Linked DNA regions of Homo sapiens. The protein of the gene in region 1 purifies or fractionates together with the protein of each later gene. This does not show direct contact. Each region holds a gene or a part of one and is shown on either strand. Other genes may lie near its edges.

Region 1 (7,000 bases):
TTTAATATTTTTTACATCATGAGACATTGTTATGATCTTACCTGATTGTTATCTCAAGGTGAGCTAATCATCTTTATTTGCCTTAAAAAATACTGTACTGGCTGGATATTTAATCTTGTTAGTTTAGTTATACACTTGTTTTAGTCGAGTTTAATTCAAAAGGACTCTTAACAGTATGGTGTAAAACTCAGATTTTCTAGTCCAGACAAATTGCTCTCTATAACGATTTGGCAGATCAATGGAGACATCCGTTTTAACTTTACTGTTCTGTACTTACTATGTAGTCATGTGCAGCTTATCAACACAAAGAATACGGATGAGGGCATTTAAATGGACTACAAGTGACTCTGACTTGTAAACTAGGGAAGCCTCTTGTGTTTGACCTTAAAGGCCAGAGAAAAACTGAAGATAGATTGACTTAACTATTGCCAAGCAGATTATGGGTTACTTTATACTTCCTTTCATTCTCCCAGAATTGCTCTTAGAGCTAGGTGTCGTCATTAGCATGTTGTTGCTAATGATACAAACAAGAACATACATGTAATCAGAGGTGGACAAATCTTCAGAAGTTCCTTAAACTGGTTTAAAAAAGAAGATTGGGAAAGAAGACTAAATCAACATGTTTCTCCGCTTTGAAGATAAAACCAGAAATGGTTTCCATTGTAGCATCTTGACAATAGACAAATATGTAAAGTTTATAGCAGATAAGACAGTATTACTAGTTTTTCAGGGAATTGAGAGTTACAGGTTACTCTGTGTGTGTGTGTGTGTGTGTGTGTGTGTGTGTGTGTGTGTAAATTTCCCGATTTATCACTAGAGTGAGTAACTAACTAACTAACTGCTTTATAAAGCTATCCTGGTATTCATATGCCATATACTACGGAAACAACCAGGCCAATCTCCATTCGATTTCATTTCTCACTTTGTTCACTTGCATATTAATCACGTATTTCCTAAAGTATTATTTAGTAGACCACACCAGCACAATGGTTCCTCCAGCTTTTGGCAGGTGGTCTTACTGTACAGAAGTTATAAATGACACATACAACCTTCCCCTGCTCCCTCCCCATGAGCATGATGCATGTTGTAGTCAGACAGTAACATTTCCATATGTACATGTGCACAAATACATTAAAAACATTTCAGAATTATATAAAATTGTACATTACAGGAAGTAGAACCATAAAGATTATCCTAAATGTAACTACAGAGAAAATGCGTGCAGGGAGAGCCCAGTAAAGTACACAGCCTGTGGGGTATATAATTTTATTTTAAGTTTATATTTCCTGCAGGATAGCAACATACATCTTTTCCTACCCAGAGGCAAAATACATTTTCCAAAAACGTGGACACTGCCCACTGCATTAAGTTTAAAGTGCTCCCTATATATATAGACAGTAAAAGTAAGCAAAGAAACTTACAACACATTCCAATCTTTAATATCTCAAAAATGTTTCCAAGGCAACATTATTAAAATAATTATACCACAGTCCCTAATATAACATCAAGCTCCAGTAGGAAGGTACAGAGAGGGCAGGAAGTTTCCATCCAGTCTGGTTTAGGTGCTCTTCTTTTCTTCACCCAGTAAATTCACGGTAGCTTTCTTCGCTGTTTGTTTGTTAGGAGGGAAAGAAAAATATATCAAAGCTCTTTCTTTGGAATGCAAGCTTGCAAGCTTTGTGCCTAATGTAGCTACTAGATAACAAAACTTGGATGACTCATGTTCAGGTGCGATCATGTTGGGGTTTGTGGTCTGGGCTAAGAGGGTTTCCAGGAAATGGAGAAGGTACCTCTTAGAGCACAAATCCTAAATACTTGAGCAAAATACTTGAAGGTCATCTAGCCTAGCCCCTTGTTGTGACAGTGTCACCGAAACTGTCTGCCCTCTATTCTCCTTTAAGCATTGAAAGAAGCAGAGATTCCTTAAGAGTAGTGTTCAAATTCTATTTGTATCTGTGTGCTTGCCTGTAAGATTTCACTTATCAATATATTATCAATCTGATGACAACTAGGTCATCATATTTATCCCATGGCGACAAATCAGAGAAGTCCTCATTCCCAGCACTAGAAATACAGTCATCCCTTGATATATGTGTTTGGGGGGGGGGGCTGGGGGGGCGGTGGGGGAGAGGAGATTAGTTCCAGGAACCCTACAGATACCAAAATCTGTGAGTGCTCAAGCCCTTAAATAGAATGGCATACATAGTATTTCCATATAACCTATGTGCTTTCATATACTTTATTTATTTACTTATTTATTTTTTGAGACGGAGTCTCGCTCTGTCACCCAGCCTGGAGTGCAGTGGCGCGATCTCGGCTCACTACAGGCTCTGCCTCCCGGGTTCATGCCATTCTCCTGCCTCAGCCTCCCGAGTAGCTGGGACTACATGCACTCACCACCACGCCCAGCTAATTTTTTTTTGTATTTTTAGTAGAGATGGGGTTTCACTGTGTTAGCCAGGATGGTCTCAATTTCCTGACCTCGTGATCTGCCCGCCTTGGCCTCCCAAAGTGCTGGGATTACAGACGTAAGCCACCATGCCCGGCCTCTTCCATATACTTTAAATTCGGCCAGGCATAATGACTCATGCCTGTAATCGCAGCACTTTGGGAGGCTGAGGTGGGAAGATCGCTTGAAGCCAGGAATTTGAGACCAGCCTGGCCAATATGAATGGTGAGACCCCCACCCCCCACCTCTATTTTAAAAAAATTTTAAAAGCCCATCTCTAGTTAAAGTACCTAATGCAACATGAATGCTATATAAATTGTTGTTATACTAAATTGTTTTTAAAATCTGTATTTATACTCTTATTGTGCCACCATTCTCTCCTATGATGAGAAGAGTTTGCTCTAAGTCTTTGAGTTGGTGACAAGACACTACATTCATCAAGAAAACATTCTGTCCAGGTGTGGTGGCTCATGTCTATAATCCCAGAGCTTTGAGAGGCTGAGGTAGGAGTATTCCTTGAAGCCAGGAGTTTGAGATCACCCTGGCCAAAACACAGTGAGAGCCCATCTCTATAGAAAAAAAAGAAAAATATATTTTCTTACTTCTGCAGGAGACCAAGCCTTCCACTTTCTAATTACCAAGTGGCAGGGAATGTGCTATGAGAACCAGTACAGTGTGTAAGATGGAGGGGAAAGGGGTTGTCTAGAAGCCTCCAGGGCCCACTGTGAGATTTTACAATCTGCAGCTGTTCTTGATGGAGCCAGAGCCTTAGTGATGAGAGCCAAGGAGTCCCTTCTTGTCCACCAGCTGCCTGATAGTTGCTCTCCCTTTGCTCAGTTAAAATTACTGAACCAAGTTCACAGCAAAGGAGAAAATGTAGTCCTTCCCTTAACTAACCCTTTGTAGAAATTCCTAGTTAATCCAAAAGCTTTGAGAAAAGTCTAAAATGTGGCAGCATGTAAATTCCTCCTAACTTATTTTAATTCTCTTGCCCCTATTTAGGAATGTGTCATAACAAAGTAAGATTGGATTTTAAGTATTGATATCTAAGAGAACCAAGAGGCTAAGAAATGTGGGTGAAGTAGACAGAAATGACATCACCACAGGTTGCTGATTAGGCTAAGGGAAGGGAGAAGAAAAGAAAGCTCTTAAAAATAAGCTGGTAATCCTGGCTGGGCATGGTGGCTCATGCCTGTAATCCCAGCATTTTGAGAGGCCGAGGTGGGTGGATCACTTGAGGCCAGGAGTTTGAAACCAGCCTGGCCAACATGGCATAACGGTGTCTCTACTAAAAATACAAGTATCAGCTGGGCGTGGTGGCCCACACCTGTAATCACAGCTACTTGGGAGGCTGAGGCAGCAGAATCCCTTGAACCTGGAAGGTGGAGGCTGCAGTGAGCTGAGATCATGCTACTGCACTCCAGCCTGGGCAACAGAGTGAGACTCTGTTTCAAAAAAAAAAAAAAAAAAAAAAAGCTGGCAATCCTAAAGTGGGAGGAGGTTAAGGCTACAAGTTAAAAAATACCTAAAACATATTCAAGTAGACTGGATTTGTATGCCCAAAAATAGGAGTCCAGAGAAGAGAGGTCTGTGAGGGAGAAATGGGGAACATACCACTTCTGGGGCATCAGTGCTGCTGGAGAACTGTCTTGGGATTTTACTTCCCCATGGTCAGGCAACCTCACAACTCCCATGTCTAACTACCACAGAGCTCTAAAACACAAAAACCTTTCTCCAATTTCTAAAATCTGAGTCCCTCTGGAACTCAAGACCCATCACTGGCAAAATCTATATCCTCATCCATTCCTCCGAATGTTTCCTTTACCTTCTTGCTCTTAGAGAAAGCTGGCTGTGCCCTGAGGACACTGCTTTCTCAAGTGGTGGCTGTTTCTTTCCTCTCATGACCCTAGTACAAATGGATCTGGTAGGTGTTGTTTTTGTTCTTCATTGCCACTTTCAGAATCTCATGTCATCAGATTCTATCACTGAGTAGCCTTCCCTTTCCCTGTCATCCCTGACTCTTGGGCTACTTTGCCTTAGTTCTTGAAGATTTTAGCTCCTAACTTAATGTTCCTTTCTAACACTACTCCTATTATTTATTTATTTAGAGACAGGGTCTCACTCTGTCACCCAGGCTGGAATGCAGTGATGCCATCTCAGCTCACTGCAGCCTCAACCTCCAGGCTCAGGTGATCCTCCCATCTCAGCCTCCTGAGTAGCTGGGACTACTGGTACGCATCACCACATCTGGCTAATTTTTGTGTTTTTTTTTTTTTGTAGAGACTGGGTTTCACCATGTTACTCAGGCTGGTCTCAAACACCTGAGCTCAAGCAATCCACCCACCTTGACCTCTGGAAGTGCTGTGATTACAGGTGTGAGCACTGCACCTGACCTACTACTCCTATTTTAATTATTGATGATTTTAATATCCATGTAGACATATGTGATGATCTTCTAATATCCTGACCTCTTAGTTCCTCCCCTCCAATAACCCTTATATTCCACCCTACATATGGCACTGACTCCCAGGATCCCTGTTAGTACCAATACTGCAGTCCCTCCATAATCTTGTATCAAGCATCCCACTCAGCCACCATCACCTTTTATCTTTGTAGTGCACTCCCCACCCTGCTTTTTTGCTCATTGTAGATGATGATGGAGTATTCCCGCTATTATCCTGATTCAGAGTTCTTCCACCACCACTTCCCACCTTACTCAGGTTAAATTCCATTGTCAAGCATTAACCACTCCACAGTCCCACCCTCACTTCATAGTTCTTGCTGGAAATCACAACCTTGACACAACTCTCCACCTACTCTGTAGCTATACCCATGTAGCTGAGTATGGCTGGAGAAAAACATAAACAAGAACTGGTTTCACTATAAATTCATGAACGCAAATCTCAAGCATGCCTTTAACACTGCCTGACAGTCCATTTACTCTCCAACTGTCCTAGAGGGGCCAGCACACTGCAGCCAAACTCGCTTATGTAGTGTCCATGGCTGTTTTCACACTACAATGGCAGAGAAGAGTAGCTGCAACAGAGACATGATAGCCCACGAAATTTAAAACATTTGTTATCTGGCCCTTTACAGAAAAAGATGAGCAGTCCCTCTCCTTCGCAACTATTTCATACCTTCTCTTTCCATTGTCTCCTTCCCCATCCTCTCTCAATTGGCCTTCCTACTTTACTGAGAAATATGAAACAATTAGAAAGTCACTTCTGTAGGCTCCCATAGTCACATGTGCTCACAGCATACCATAAAACCTGATTTCCCTGCTGTTACCATAAACTTCCAGCTCTTCGACCAATCCCTCTACTGTATACTGGATCCTTCACTGGTCAAGGACAGAGCTCCAACAATTCACCCTCTCACTCCTATCATCATTTTTTGCTCTGTTGAATTATTCCCATTAATTTTCAAACAGGCTTTGTTTCTCCTACCTTAAGAAAAAAACTTTTAAAATTTCAGGACCATAATTCCTTCTTCCAGTTATAGCCCCATTCTTCTGCTCTCCTTTGCAGGAAATTTCTCAAAAGAAAGATCTATATTCTCTCATCCCTTTTCTCTCATTCTCTCAAATCCATTGCAATCAGGAGTTTGATATCACTCCACAAAATCTGTGTTATCAAAATCACTAGTACCTTCCTCATTGCTAAATCTGCTCAGTTCTCAGTCCTTATCTTACTTGACCTGTTGACAGCATGTAACATGACAGATCACTTCTCCTCTCTGAAAGAAAAACTTTCTGTTCTTGGCCCCAGGGATACCACACGCTCATGGTTTTCTTGCTACCTCAATTGGCCACTCCTTATCAGTCTGCTTTGCTAGTTGCTTCTCATCTCTCCAGTCTCTAAACCTTAGACTCCCCAGCGTTCAGTCTTTGGACCTCCTGTTTCCTAACTACACTACCTTCGTGATCTCATCTAGTCTCATGCTTAATATGTATAAGCTTGTGGCCCCCAAATTTATATCTCCAGTCCAGACCTGTTTCTTGAACTCTTGACACCTGTATCCAACTAGCTATTTGACTAATCCTTGTAGGTATCTAACAAACAGACACCTCAAACAAATGTCCAGGACTAAATTCCATATCCTCCCACCCACCACAACCTCCCACCCCAACAAAACCTGTTCTACCCAGTCTTCTCCAGCTCAGTGGCAATTTTATCCTTCCATCTGTTCAGGCTAAAAAGCTCGTCCTTGTCCTTAACCCCTCTGACCCATGCCCAATCCATAAGCCAATCCATAAGCAAATCCCATTACTTCTACCTTTGAAATATATCAAGAATCTGATACTTCTTACCCCCTACTGCTACACAAGGAACCAAGCCACCATCATCACCTCCAGCCAGATCACTGCAAGAACCTTTTAACTGTTCTCCCAACTTCCTGCCTTACCCCTTCAGTCTGTTCCTAATACAGTGGCCACAGGCATCTTATTAAAACACAGGACAGATCATTTTGCTTCTGTGGTTAAAAGTCCCCAGTACCTCCACATCTCACATAGAGTAGAAGCCAAACCTTTACAATGGCCTATAAGGCATT
Region 2 (6,394 bases), on another chromosome or scaffold:
TGCAATCCCAGCACTTTGGGAGGCCAGGGCGGGCGGATCACGAGGTCAGGAGATCGAGACCATCCTGGCTAACACTGTGAAACCCCATCTCTACTAAAAATACAAAAAATTAGCCAGGCGTGCTGGTGGGCGCCTGTAGTCCAAGCTACTCAGGAGGCTGAGGCAGGAGAATGGCGTGAACCCGGGAGGCGGAGCTTGCAGTGAGAGATCGCACCACTGCACTCCAGCCTGGGCGACAGACCAAGACTCCGTCTCAGGAAAAAAAAAGAAATTAGAAATGAAGGAAATACAGGCTAAATACTAGCCAAGAGTGCCAGTTATACTGATGGTGGGGCTCTCACAAGAAGGAAAGTAGCCTCATACTATGGTGATGTTCTGGCCATCACGAAGTAAAAATAGGGGTGGGCTGGTGGGTCCCTCATACCTGGGCTTCCTCTTTTAAGGCTATCACTTCAAATTAATCAGAACTCAGATTTACAAGAGAAGACCTATCAAGGGTAGGACACCATTCAGCATCAGTCTCTTAAAGATTGTTCTCATACAAGATTTATTCCCCAGCACACCCCTCCCCTCCTCAGTTCACAGTGGAGACTATGGAGATTCAGGGCAGGATCCCTCAGGTACAAGAAACACCTTCCGAAGATTTTGCTCTCCTTCCTTCCCTCCCTCTTGCCAACTCCCAAGGCCTGAAGCGCACACTCATGCAAACACACGAAATCCCCCTCCTTCCCCACACCTCCTGTCTTTCCACATCAGAGCTCTGAACTTGAGAGGTGTCAAAAGTCTGTTTGAGAAGCCTAAAGTGGGGAGATGCCATTACCCCTGACCACCCCACTATGAGTGACTATGAGACACCTAACTCTTCCCTCTTCTGTCAACCATTTTCACTCCCTGGCCTCTGTACCTTCTCCATCAACCAAGAGCAAACATGTCAGCACACCCCCACCTGCAGTACATGAAAACAGGCTCTGTCCAACATCCCTCACCCAAGTACAGGGGTGTTGGGGGAGTGGCCCCTGAGGATCAGCAAAGGGTTAATGCAGAAGGAAAGAGGACAGAAGCGTTTGGCTTGAGCTCTGCTTGGGGAGGCAGAGGCTATAGACTGGCACAGGTTTAGAATCAAGTACCATGTTTAGGTTTCTGTCTCACATCACATGATTTCACTAGGGGCTGCAGAACAGATACCCCTCAGAGGGGTCTCTGCTGATTACAGCCACATTCTTACTATTGGCTCATCCTTAAAGGAGGCCCCACCAAGTTGGGAAGCAGTTGAAAATAAAAGCTGTAAAGGAGCTGAACAGGAAGTAAGAATAGGTGGTGCAAGAGATTATGGCCCCTGGGATGAATGACATGGAGCCATTTGTAAAGTGCTACTGTATCATCCCCCATGAATTATTGCTTCTCCAAAGGAGGAGCAGAGGAAGGAACAGGAACATAGAAATGAGTATGGTATTGCTTTGCTCACTGCTGAGGCTGATGGCCAGATGGACCCAGGGGTTATCAGAAACCGAAGATTAACTACACAGCTCCAGAAGACTCAGACCTCAAAATACAGAGGTGCTCACTAATCCTCCCAGCCAGCTGATCCCCCTGGGCCAAGGTAATGTAGAAGAGGCCCATCCCCACATCATATTCACATTTTTTAAATTTCACAAGCAATACTTTGGACCACTGGGGTTCAGGCCCCAAGAAATGATGGGCTAGATGAGAGGGAGCAGGCCTGTTCTGCAAAACCAAAGGACAAGTTTGCTTTAAAAAAAAAAAAAAATCACGCTGGGCACAGTGGCTCACACCTGTAATCCCAACACTTTGGGTGGCTGAGGCGGGCTGATCATTTGCAGTCAGGAGTTCTAGACCAGCCTGGCCAGCACGGTGAAACCCCATCTCTACTAAAAACACAAAAAAATTAGCCGGGCATGGTGGTGCATGCCTGTAATCTCAGCTACTGAGGAGGCTGAGGTAGGAGAATCGCTTGACCCGGCAGGCGGAGGCTGCAGTGAGCCGAGATTGTGCCACTGCACTCCAGCCTGGGCAACAGAGAGAGACTCTGTCTCAAAAAAAAAAAAAAGAAAAGAAAAGAAAAGAAAAAAATCAAATCCTGGTTTAACAAAAGATGACGACTAATCCCAGCACTCTGGGAGGCCAAGGCAGTCAGCTCACTTGAGGTCAGGAGTTTGAGACCAGCCTGGCCAACATGGTGAAACCCCATTTCTACTAAAAATACCAAAAGAAAAATTAGCCGGGCATAGTAGCGGGCACCTGTAATCCCACTACTAAGGAGGCTGAGGCAGGAGAACCTCTTCAACCTGGAAGGCAGACGTTGCAGAAAGCCAAGATCACACCACTGCACTCCAGCCTGGGCAACAGAGCGAAACTGTCTCAAAAAAAAAGATGATGACAATGTAACTACTCCAGCTGCTGCCTGACTTTGGGGGCTCTAGAGAGGCGATGAAAGGAGGAAGGCAGGCATGGGCTCTTTCAGTGAGGGCCCCTGAGCACTCATACCTAAAAGCAAACAGCAGCACCTCCTCAAAGGGGAACCAATATCCCTGACTATTTTGTTCCCCCAAAGTACCATCCTGATGGAGAGAAGCCTCCCTTGGGGGAGCACACTCTCACTTCAGTGACTGAGCTCAGAAATGGGCATCCAGCTGGTGGGAGGGGAGTGAGTGTCCTCTCTAAGGAGGCCTCTGAGCATCAGCCAGGCCACCCAGCATACAAATATAATTCAGGGGAGGGGAGCTGAGTTCTTCCCTTGCCCCATCACCTTAAGTGGGATGGGGAGAAAAAAACCTAAACCACAGTGACTCCCAAAAGGAGTCTCTGCCTCAGTGGCTCCTAGAACTGGCAGGGTCCAGCTGACTCAGCTCCGACTGGTCCAGAAGTTCAAAGTCATCCCCCTCAGCATCAGTGTCCAGGTCTGAACTGGGGGACCGGAGGAAGCCTCTCGTTGCTCTCTGGGCAGGTGCTCCAGAAGGGCCTGGTTGGGAGGCCCCTGACAAGGCCAGCTGAATCATACCCTGGGAGACCAGGCTGGCAAGGTTGCTGGTGAGGTTGGATCCTACAGGAAGAGCACCAAGCAGGAGCTCCGGCAGCGCAGCCTCGTCCCGGCTGGCAGGTGGGGCCTGGGGCTCCTCAGCCCCTGGCGGAGAACGGTACATCAAGCTGGGCATGCCAATGCTAGTGTCGTCCTCATCATCCAGGCCAGCAGGATCCATATTAATGGAAGGGAAGTCTGGAAGGTCTCTGGCAAAGGATTCCTCTGGATCACTGTGACCATCTAGGTCTGGTGGAATACAGAAGTGTCTGAGTCATGGCACCTACCTGGCCCTCCTGTGCCCCAGCCCCACATGACCAGATTTTTCCCACCCTGGCTTTCTCAGGGCGAAATAAACCCATGGGACTGGTATACCTTTCCCCTCCACTTATAGGTGGCTGTGATCTCTACACAATTCCCCCTCTCTTCTATGTCCCCTGTGAGGCTAGTGCCTGAGGCTACTAAGGGACTAAAGTCTTCAAGAAGGGCAGCAGTGCCATCCTGGCTGTAGCCACAGCACTCAGGCTGCTCTGCCGCCTGATCCATAGCTCAGAAAACAGGAGAGGGGCAAGCACCAGTATCCCCTCTGTTCAGGGAAGCTAAGAGGCAACAGTCAGAGCCATTATCAACTGAGGTCAAAGGCTCCCCTCACCTTCAGAGCCTTCCGTTAGAGGTGTTTGGCCCCTTGAAAGATTGAATGTGCCATTGTCTGTACAGGAGACTTCAGCGTCTGAGTGCTCAGAGTCTGTGATGGCCAATTCCCTGGCAACAGTAGAATCGTCCAGCTTAGGAAAAGACCAACAAATGTGAGATAATGCCATCAGGAACCAGGTGTAGTCACCAGGTACAGCTTTACTAATCAGCTAGCATTAGTTATCCGAAGGCCATCAAATCAATGTAACCAGGGATAGATGGTAACTTCCCGTTGAAAACTCCCTCTCCCCTTTATTTTTTTTTTAATCAATACATGTGAAAGTAACAACAACAAAAAAAATCTTGACCCCTTTTAGGCTGCTCTCCCAAAGAAAACACTCATTCATAACCTCTTAAGCACAGGAAGAAAAGCAGTCTTGGGGGAGTCAATTACCCACTTACTTTAAGGCAAATAATTGATCCAGAGATAATTTTTCAAAGTGGTAGGAGGATACACATACTGCACAGACCCAAGGGTGAACTGGGCTGTTTAAAAGATGATCATACTAGCTCCAGAAGTTCTTCCATAATGGTAGGGTAAAAAGAGATACGGAAGAGCGGTGCTGGGCATCAGGCTCTAATTGAGACCTAGGTTGATTACAGGAATGATATGATAAAGAAAAAAATTGAGATCTAGGAACAAAGTCTCACTTCTCTCCTTGTCTTGGGAACAAGGGGAGTCTAAGGCCTCAAACCTGGTTATGGCCTAAATGTGAGCTGTCGGATGGTTAAAAGGTAGCTAAAGAAAACTGGACAGTGAAGCAGCTCCCACACTCAAGATACCTGAGGACAGAAGGCAGCAAGCTCCTCTTCGCTGTCACTGTGGTTGTCCATGGCTCGTTCTGGGTGGAGAGCTCTGCGGCGTACTGTGGGAAGAGCACAAAGTCTTGCTTGATACCTTCTCCCAGCGTAAAATCCCCTTTGGACTTTAAAGACATAAAATCAGAACACAAAACAAAGAGCCTCTCTGAATCTGGCTCTAAGCCTACATAATAATAACAGAAGGCTGAGCTGCTGAGCCTAAATGCAAGGTGAGTTGAAAACACTGGAGAAAATATCTCAGCTTCCAACATCCTCTCCACCAGACCCTACATATTTCTTTTTTCTTTTGAGATGGAGTTTTGTTCTTGTTGCCCAGGCTGGAGTGCAATGGCGCGATCTCGGCTCACTGCAACCTCTGCCTCTTGGATTCAAGCAATACTCCTGTCTCAGCCTCCTGAGTAGCTGAGATTACAGGTGCTCACCATCACACCTGGCTAATATTTGTATTTTTAGTAGAGACGGGGTTTCATCATATTGGTCAAGCTGGTCTCGAACTCCTGACCTAAGGTGATCCGCCCACCTCAGCCTCCAAAAGTGCTGGGATTACAAGTGTGAGCCACTGCGCCCGGCCTGGCACACATTTCTATTCTGGTCAGATGATCAAATACCAGGCTTTGTCAACAACTCTCTGGATGGCTAAAGGCAGACCTAATGTCAAGGTGTTAAGTGGACATGATCAAAGAGAGGGCAAAAGGAGATGCACACCTTGTTAAATCAGACTTTTGAGGACTGGTATTATTCAACTGGCTGCCCCAAGGGGACTTGGGCCTTGGTGACCAAGTGCAGGGCTCTTTGAAGGCCAGGCCTCCATAAAACACAAAACCTGACAAGACCACACAAGGGAGGGAAAAGTTTGTACTACCATCATTGTGTTGCATGGATCTCAGGCTAGTACACTTACAACCTCTGAGGCAGCAGTTTTTAATCACCTTTGGGAGGCAGCTTTTACTAGTGAAGAGACCAGGCTTAGGAGTTGAAAGGATCTGCTCTGGGCTCAGCACGGTGGCTCACACCTGTAATCCCAACACTTTGGAACGCCAAGGCAGGAGGATCGCTTGAGCCCAGGAGTTCAGGATCAGCCTGGGCAACATGAGACCCCATCTCTACAAAAAAATTTAAAAATCAGATAGATGTGGTGACACATGCCTGTAGTCCCAGCTACTGAAGGGTTTGGCGGGGCTGAGTAGAAGGATCACTTGAGCCTGGGAGGTCAAGGGTGCAGTGAGCCATGATCATGCCACTGCACTCCAGCCTGGGAAACAGAATGAGACCCTGTCTCAAAAAAAAAAAAAAAAAAAAAACAAACCACAAATACTAGGAATTTATCTTCACTGTCTAGCTTTTATTCAACTTGAAAGAGCTTTTATCAGATAGGTTTAAAACGGGAGCCTAGGATTACAAATGATAAAAACTGGCAAGCCTGCACAGGTTTCCCTAGAACAGAATATCATTTTTACCTATCAATCCTCACCCCCACCAACTACCCCCGACTTCCACTTTTGAGGACCCACCCAGTATGTCAGACCTATGGGCTTCTCCTTTTCGCCCCAAATTGCGTAAGTGGAAAGAATGACACCATGACACTTACATTGTCTCTCTCTCTGCTTGGACATCATGTAGCCACGGACACTGAAGTCTAGCCGCTGCAGAGCTGGCTTCAGCCGCACATATGCTCGATCCCACAGTCGGTGGTACACAGCAAGGGGCCACATCATGACAGTGACAACTGTGAGGAGGCATGGGAAACAGTGACAAAATGGAGAAGGGGCTGCAAAAAACATTCCCAACTGTAGCGCTGCTATTGGTCCTTAGGGCTTGGACACAAAGTGTGGAACAGATCTG
Region 3 (7,034 bases), on another chromosome or scaffold:
ACCCCGTCTCTACTAAAAATACAAAAATTAGCCAGGCATGAGGGCGCATGCCTGTAATCCCAGCTATCTGGGAGGCTGAAGCGGGAGGCTGCAGTGAGCCGAGATCGTGCCGTTGCTCTCCAGCCTGGGGGACAGAGCAAGATTCTGTCTCAAAATAAAAAAACGAGGGAAAGCACTGCTTAGATCAGCCACCAGTGGGACACTGGGAAGGCCAGCACGCCCTGGGTCCCTCTGTGCAGGACCAGCCTCTGGGCATTGCACCTGCCTTTGAGACCCAGGAGGCAGAAAACAGTCATTTTGAGATTTTTGTCTTAACAGGTGATGAAACCACAGGGTTTAAAATTCAGGGAACTTAAAGGCAGGCACGACGTACAGTCTCTCTCCTGCTGACTCCCCTCCCTGGTGCACAGGCAGCCCGCAGGACCCACACCCCCGGATGTGTCCGGGGAGCTTATGCACACACATGCACGGGGCGTGATATGCACGCACACGCGGTACCCCCCGCCGCGTCCCTGCAAGATGCTGGCCTGTCCTGTGTTCGCCTGCTTGGAGCCTCCACAGCATCACAGGCTGCATGGTCTTTGGGTCATTCCTTCCTCTTTTTTTTTTTCTGGAGAGATGGTTTCTCCCTATGTTGCCCAGGCCAGTCTGAACTCCTGGCCTCAAGCAGTGATTCTCCTGCTTTGGCCTCCCAAAGCGCTGGGATTACAGGCGTCAGCCACCATGCCTGGCCTCTTTTATTTTTTAAAAAAGTAAACCTCTGTTTGGATGTAATTTTAGATTTATGAAAAGCGGCAAAGGCATTTGAGGACTCCTGCCGCCGCCCCCGCAGCTTCCCACTGGCCAGCATCGCACGCCCCCGCATGCAAGTGTCAGGTCTAGGGAGGCACCCAGCACACTGTCAGTGGGCTGCATGCTCCGCTTAGAGGCTGCGGCGCCCGCTGATGTCCGATTCCTGGCGGGGCCCACCGGGGGCCCCTGCTGCACCGTGTCCTCAGTACCTGGCTGCCGCCATGTGGCCACCCTCACCATCTACACAGCTAGGCCCCGCTGGGGGTCATTTCTCTGGAGTTTCCAGTCCTCTGCCACCACAGATGCTGCCGTGGCTCATGGCCTCGGGCATGCGTCACCCCTGGGGAGGTGACGCTGGTGAAGCTGCCCGGGGCAGGGAGAGCGGGGCTGTCGCCTCTTGCCCCACAGCAGTGCACAGAGTGTGTGGGGAGGTGGCGCTGGTGAAGCCGCCCAGGACAGGGAGAGCGGGGCTGTCCCCTCTCGCCCCACAGCAGCGCACTGAGCGTGGGGCCTCACTAAGCCAACGGTGGACATGAAGTCGCTGTGCGCTGTGGTTTGATTTCTCTCATTACAAGGGGGGCCGGGCTCTCCTAAGACCCGCTGGGTTTCTTTCTCAAGAGCGTTCACCTTCTGTCCACCTCGGGCAGGGACCGCATGCTCAGCTTCTCCCGTGACCTGCGGGAGATGACCCAGGCTCCAATGAGAAGAGCCAAGTCGCTGCTGCCGCACGTGCACGAGGGCCGAGGGGGCAGGGAGGTCTCTGAGGGTCACATGTGGGCACTCACCTCATGCCGGGATCTCAGGACCACCCAACACGGGCACAGGCCTGTCCACCCAGCTCAGCCTGGGAGAGCTGGGGACGCACCGGGGAGGCGGCTCACAGGAGGCACTGGAGCCCAGGGAAGGGCCAGTGGGAGCCGAGCTGGCAGCTGGGAGCTCAGGAGGACTCGGAGGATGACGAGCAGTGCCTTGACCTGCAGCCACAGCCTCTGCAGGAGGGGGAAGCACCCCAAAGGCTGGCAGAGCTGGGAGTCCCAGGCACACGCTCACTATGACTCTAACTCAGATCCCTGGGGCAACGTCACTCAGGCTCTTGGGGTGGCAGGTGACAGACCAGCTTCAGCGGCACATCCGAGGGGTGCACAAACCACAGATCCCAGCCACCCTGGAGGGCCTGGCGCCAGGCGCAGGTGCAGGAGGGGAGAGGCCTGCAGATCGAGGGGCCCTGAAGGGAGAGGAGTCACCATCCCAGGAAACCTGGGACCTTATCTGGATTCTGATCTGTGCACTGGCGTGAGAGTACCGCAGTCTTGTGGGGCAGGAACCCCAGAACAGGAGCTTGCTAATGGGAGCCCAGGAAACCAAAGGCACCCACGGCTCCGTGAGCAGCGTCACCCGTGGGGAGCTCCCGCCGTGCCAAGGACAAGGGAGACACGTCGGGGACGTGGGCGAGAACAGTCACTCTCTGCAACTGAGAATTACAAATTATTCCAAAATAAAAAGCCTATTTAAAAAGCCACAAATTTGGCCAGGCACAGTGGCTCACGCCTGTAATCCCAGCACTTTGGGAGGCCGAGGCGGGTGGATCACGAGGTTAGGAGTTTCAGACCAGCCTGACCAACACATGGTGAAACCCCGTCTCTTACTAAAAATACAAAAATTTGCTGGGTGTGGGGGCACACACCTGTAGTCCCAGCTACTCGGGAGGCTGAGGCAGGAGAATCGCTTGAACCTGGGAGGTGAAGGTTGCAGTGAGCCAAGATCATGTCACTGCACCCCAGCCTGAGTGACAGAGAGCGACTCCATCTCAAAAAAAAATAATAATAGTTTAAAAAAAGGGCCGGGTGCAGTGGCTCACACCTGTAATCCTAGCACTTTGGGAGGCTGAGAAAGGCGGATTGCCTGAGCTCGGGAGTTCGATACCAGCCTGGGCAACACGGTGAAACCCCGTCTCTACTAAAATACAAAAGAAATTAGCCAGGCGTGGTGGCGGGCGCCTGTAGTCCCAGCTACTCGGGAGGCTGAGGCAGGAGAATTGCTTGAACCCAGGATGTGGAGGTTGCAGTGAGCTGAGATTGCACCACTGCGCCCCAGCCTGGGTGACAGAGCAAGACTCTGTCTCAAAAAAAAAAAAAAAAAAAAGAAAAGAAAAAAGGCAGAAATTTAAGACACCAACACAAACACTTCTGGGCACCTGGCAGCCTTAGAGAGTGACTGTGAGTTTCTCAGGTGTGGTAACAGCACCAGGTATGTGTGTTTTTACAGATGTACAGGTCTTCCTCCTGCAGCGATCCGTGCAGAAACATCAGCAGCCAGGAACTGGCTCCCAGACCCCGGGTCAGGGGTGTGATCAACACTCAGGAGACAAGCCTGGCTGGGCGCTGGCGAGGACGCAGGCACTGCCAGGGCGAGCTCGGACCCCTCCCTAGGAGAGTGCCTACAATCGCGAACCATGGCTGGGTGCTGGCGAGGACGCGGGCGCTGGCGAGGACGCGGGCGCTGCCAGGGTGAGCTCAGACCCCTCCCTAGGAGAGCGCGTACAATCCCGGACCAGCACGCTCCGGTGGCCGCCTGGCTTCCCAGCAGGCCCACAACCTGGCAGCTGAGCCACATCACAGCCACCACGCCCATCAGAGAGAGGCTTACCACGCGCCCCAGCCGGAGAAGCCAATCGCCTGGATGACGGTCAGGACAAACTGGGCTCCGAAGATGAAGAAAAACGCCATGAAATTAAAGGAGCTGTCGGCTCTGGGGAGGGACAGAAAACACGACGGTTACCACAGCCCTGGCTTCTCCCAGACGCGCCTAGAGAGGAACGGGCCAGTCAGAGATGGTGAGAGCGGAGGCTCTATTTTATTCCTTTTTTTTTTTTTTTGAGATGGAGTCTCACTCTGTCGCCCAGGCTGGAGAGCAGTGTCGAGATCTCGGCTCACTGCAACCTCTGCCTCCCGGGTTCAAGCGATTCTCTTGCCTCAGCCTCCTGAGTAGCTGGGATTATAGGCGCCCGCAACCACGCCTGGCTAATTTTTGTACCTATAGTAGAGACAGCGTTTCACCATGTTGGCCAGGCTGGTCTTGAACTCCTGACCTCAGGTGATCCGCCTGCCTCGGCCTCCCAAAGTGCTGGGATTATAGGCCTGAGCCACTGCACCCAGCCAAAATTACTAGAAAGCAAAACAAAACAGACAGTAGTTGGCTCTGGCTTGTGGGCCACAGTTTGCCACCCCCAGATGTGAACTGTCTTTCACACTGGGCAGAGAAAGGGACAGCTCCTCACAGCTGGGCTGGGACTGGGGTGCAGAGTGGGCCCTGGTTCCCTCTGGGTGCAGACGGCCCCCGGCAGCTCTGCTCACCGGAAGGCCTTGTAGACAGGCCGGAACCAGCACACGTAGCCGCAAGGCGTGAACAGGAGCAGCCACACGAAGGCCAGGCCGAAGTTGGTCCCCGAGCCTCCGCCGATCCACCAGGCCAGGCAGGCAATGAGGTTGACGCCGAGGGTGGCGCAGTAAACTGCGAAGAGAGAGGGAGGACGGATGAGCAGGCACGGGAGGGTGTGGCCGTGGGAAAGCATGGGCCCAGCAATGGGGCACCCGCTGTCCGCCTCCCCAGCCCAGTGACCCCATGTCGAGGATGAACTGTGCAAGCCAAGACACTGGGGCCTGGACACCAGCCTCGTTCACCGCAGGGACCACCAGGCCCAGGACGGCTTCAGTAGACGGTGGGCCCCCGACGGGCTGCCCCTGCCTGAATGCCACTCCCTCCCTCGGGGAGCCCTGCCTCCCGCTTCCCGCCTCCTGCCCCCAGGCGCACTCACACATCCACAGCCGGTAGATCCTCTTCACCAGGACCTGGTGCTCCACTGGGATCTCGTCGGAGAAGTTCTGGTAGAAGCAGGGCTTCACAGGGATGAACTTGGGCAGTGGCGGGAAGTTGTTCTCCTTTTCTGTAGGGACAGAGAACCCACGGACAGAACCAGACTTTGTCTCTTGAAGGAGGCCCCACCTCATCCCTTCGACCCAAGGCTGGGTTGCCTCTCATGGCAGAAGGGACTCTGCAGTTGGGATTGAGGGCAGGACGCTGAGACAGGAGAGGGTCCTCGTGGCAGCCTCACGAGAGGAGACGGGAGGGTGGGAGTCAGAGAGAAACGGGAAGAGGCTGCGCTGAGGCTGTGAAGGGGGAGAAAGGGGCCCTGAGTGGAGGGATGGGGGCGCCTCTAGACGCTGGGCAAGGCGGGAACCGGCCTACAGCTTGATGTTAGCGTTTCTGGTCTCCAGAACTGTCAGATAACTGATTTCACTGTTTTAAGGAACTAAGTTTATGACTCTTTTTTTGAGACGGAGTCTCGCGCTGTCTCCCAGGCTAGAGGGCAGTGGTGCGATCTCGGCTCACTGCAGCCTCTGCCTCCCAAGCTCAAGTGATTCTTCTGCCTCAGCCTCCCAAGTAGCTGGGATTACAGGCGCCCACCACCACACCCGGCTAATTTTTGGATTTTTCTTTTTAGTAGACACGAGGTTTCACCATGTTGGCCAGGCTGGTTTTGAACTCCTGACCTCAAATAATCCGCCCACCTCTGCCTCCCAAAGTGCTGGGATAACAGGCGTGAGCCACCGCGCCCGGCCGAAATTGTTTTTTAAATTTACGTGTCACCCTTCATGCAGGGCCCTGCTACTCTTCGTAGCCCTCCTCCATGTTTAGTGTGGGTGCGGCTGCAGCAGGCTGCATTTAGTATCATTCCCTCCGGCAGGCAGGGACGCCAACATGCAGGCTCAGCAGGCCGAGTCCGCACACTGCGGGGAGGCTGTGGCCTGGGGACGCTTCCGTTCCCCATGGCTGCTGTGAGAAACCACCACCGACTGGGAGGCTTAGAACAACAGAAACTGCCCAGGTGTGGGGGCTCCCACCTGTGATCTCAGCACTTTTGGAGGCTGAGGCAGGAGGGCTGCTGGAGCCCAGGAGTTCCAGATCAGCCTGGCAACCTAGCGAGACCCCAACTCTACAAAAACTACAAAAATTAGCCAAGCGTGGTGGTGCGTGCCTGTGGTCCCAGCTTCTCGGGAGGCTGAGGCAGGAGGATCGCTTGAACCCAGGAAGTTAAAGCTGCAGTGAGCTATGATCACACCACTGCACTCCAGCCTGGGAGAGACCCAGACCCTGTCTCAAAACAAAACAAAGAACACAACAAATATTTATCTGCTAACAGTCCTGGAGGCCAGAAATCTGAGATCAAGGTGTCTCAGGAACGCGCTCCCTCTGCAGGCTCCGGGGAAGGAGCCTTCCTGCCTCTCTCAAGCAGCTTCTGGGGGATCCCAGCGCCCTTGGCTCATGGCCGCATAGCTCTGGCCTCTGCCTCCATCTCCACGACGACTCCTCCTGTATCTCCATGTCTTTTTTTTTTTTTTGAGATCCAGTCTCACTCTGTCACCCAGGCTGGAGTGCAGTGGCGTGATCTCGGCTCACCACAACTCCGCCTCCCAGGTTCAAGCGATTCTCCTGCCTCAGCCTCCCAAGTAGCTGGGACTACAGGTGCTGTGCCACCATGCCCAGCTAATATTTTTAGTAGGGATGGGGTTTCACTATGCTGTCCAGGCTGGTCTCAAACTCCTGACCTCATCATCTGCCCACCTCGGCCTCCCAAAAGTGCTGGGATTACAGGCGTGAGCCACCACGCCCGGACCATCTCTTTTTTTTTTTTCTGAGACAGTCTCGCTCTGTCACCCAGGCTGGAGTGCAGTGGCCCGATCTCGCTCACTGCAAGCTCCGCCTCCCGGGTTCACACCATTCTCCTGCCTCAGCCTCTCGAGTAGCTGGGACTACAGGCACCCGCCACCACGCCCAGCTAATTTTTTGTATTTTTAGTAGAGACGGGGTTTCACCGTGTTAGCCAGGATGGTCTCGATCTCCTGACCTCGTGATCCACCCGCCTCGGCCTCCCAAAGTGCTGGGATTACAGGCGTGAGCCACCGTGCCCGGCCTCCATCTCTTCTTATAAACACAGCAGGCACTGGGATGAGAGCTCGCCCTGCTCCAGTACTTTATCTTAACTCCATCACGTCCGGAGTTAAGGCCATATTCCCAAATGAGGTCCCACTCACAGGTTCCAGGGATCAAGATGGGAACACAGCCTTTGGGGCACTCAGCGTGGCACTGGGAGCCCCCCAGGAGCTTCTGCTCAGCCAGCACTGCCTGAGGAAGTGTCCCTGGGCGCCTGCGAGGGCCAGATGGGGAGTCAGACAGCAAGAGGC

What was found.
Region 2: the proteins of REEP5 (region 1) and RETREG3 purify together in Homo sapiens (affinity purification with mass spectrometry; 4 studies listed by BioGRID and IntAct, with this or other methods). This does not show direct contact.
Region 3: the proteins of REEP5 (region 1) and SCAMP4 purify together in Homo sapiens (affinity purification with mass spectrometry; 3 studies listed by BioGRID and IntAct, with this or other methods). This does not show direct contact.

What each region holds. Positions count from the first base shown.
Region 1 is NC_000005.10:112,877,228-112,884,227, forward strand, and holds part of REEP5 (receptor expression-enhancing protein 5), read right to left. Parts: intron 1,609-7,000; coding exon 1,559-1,608; 3' UTR 1-1,558. UniProt on the Homo sapiens protein: Plays an essential role in heart function and development by regulating the organization and function of the sarcoplasmic reticulum in cardiomyocytes.
Region 2 is NC_000017.11:42,578,985-42,585,378, forward strand, and holds the end of RETREG3 (reticulophagy regulator 3), read right to left. Parts: intron 6,279-6,394; coding exon 6,141-6,278; intron 4,597-6,140; coding exon 4,514-4,596; intron 3,823-4,513; coding exon 3,690-3,822; intron 3,287-3,689; coding exon 2,829-3,286; 3' UTR 531-2,828; downstream 1-530. UniProt on the Homo sapiens protein: Endoplasmic reticulum (ER)-anchored autophagy regulator which exists in an inactive state under basal conditions but is activated following cellular stress.
Region 3 is NC_000019.10:1,915,395-1,922,428, reverse strand, and holds part of SCAMP4 (secretory carrier-associated membrane protein 4), read right to left. Parts: intron 4,736-7,034; coding exon 4,607-4,735; intron 4,303-4,606; coding exon 4,146-4,302; intron 3,541-4,145; coding exon 3,439-3,540; intron 1-3,438. UniProt on the Homo sapiens protein: Probably involved in membrane protein trafficking.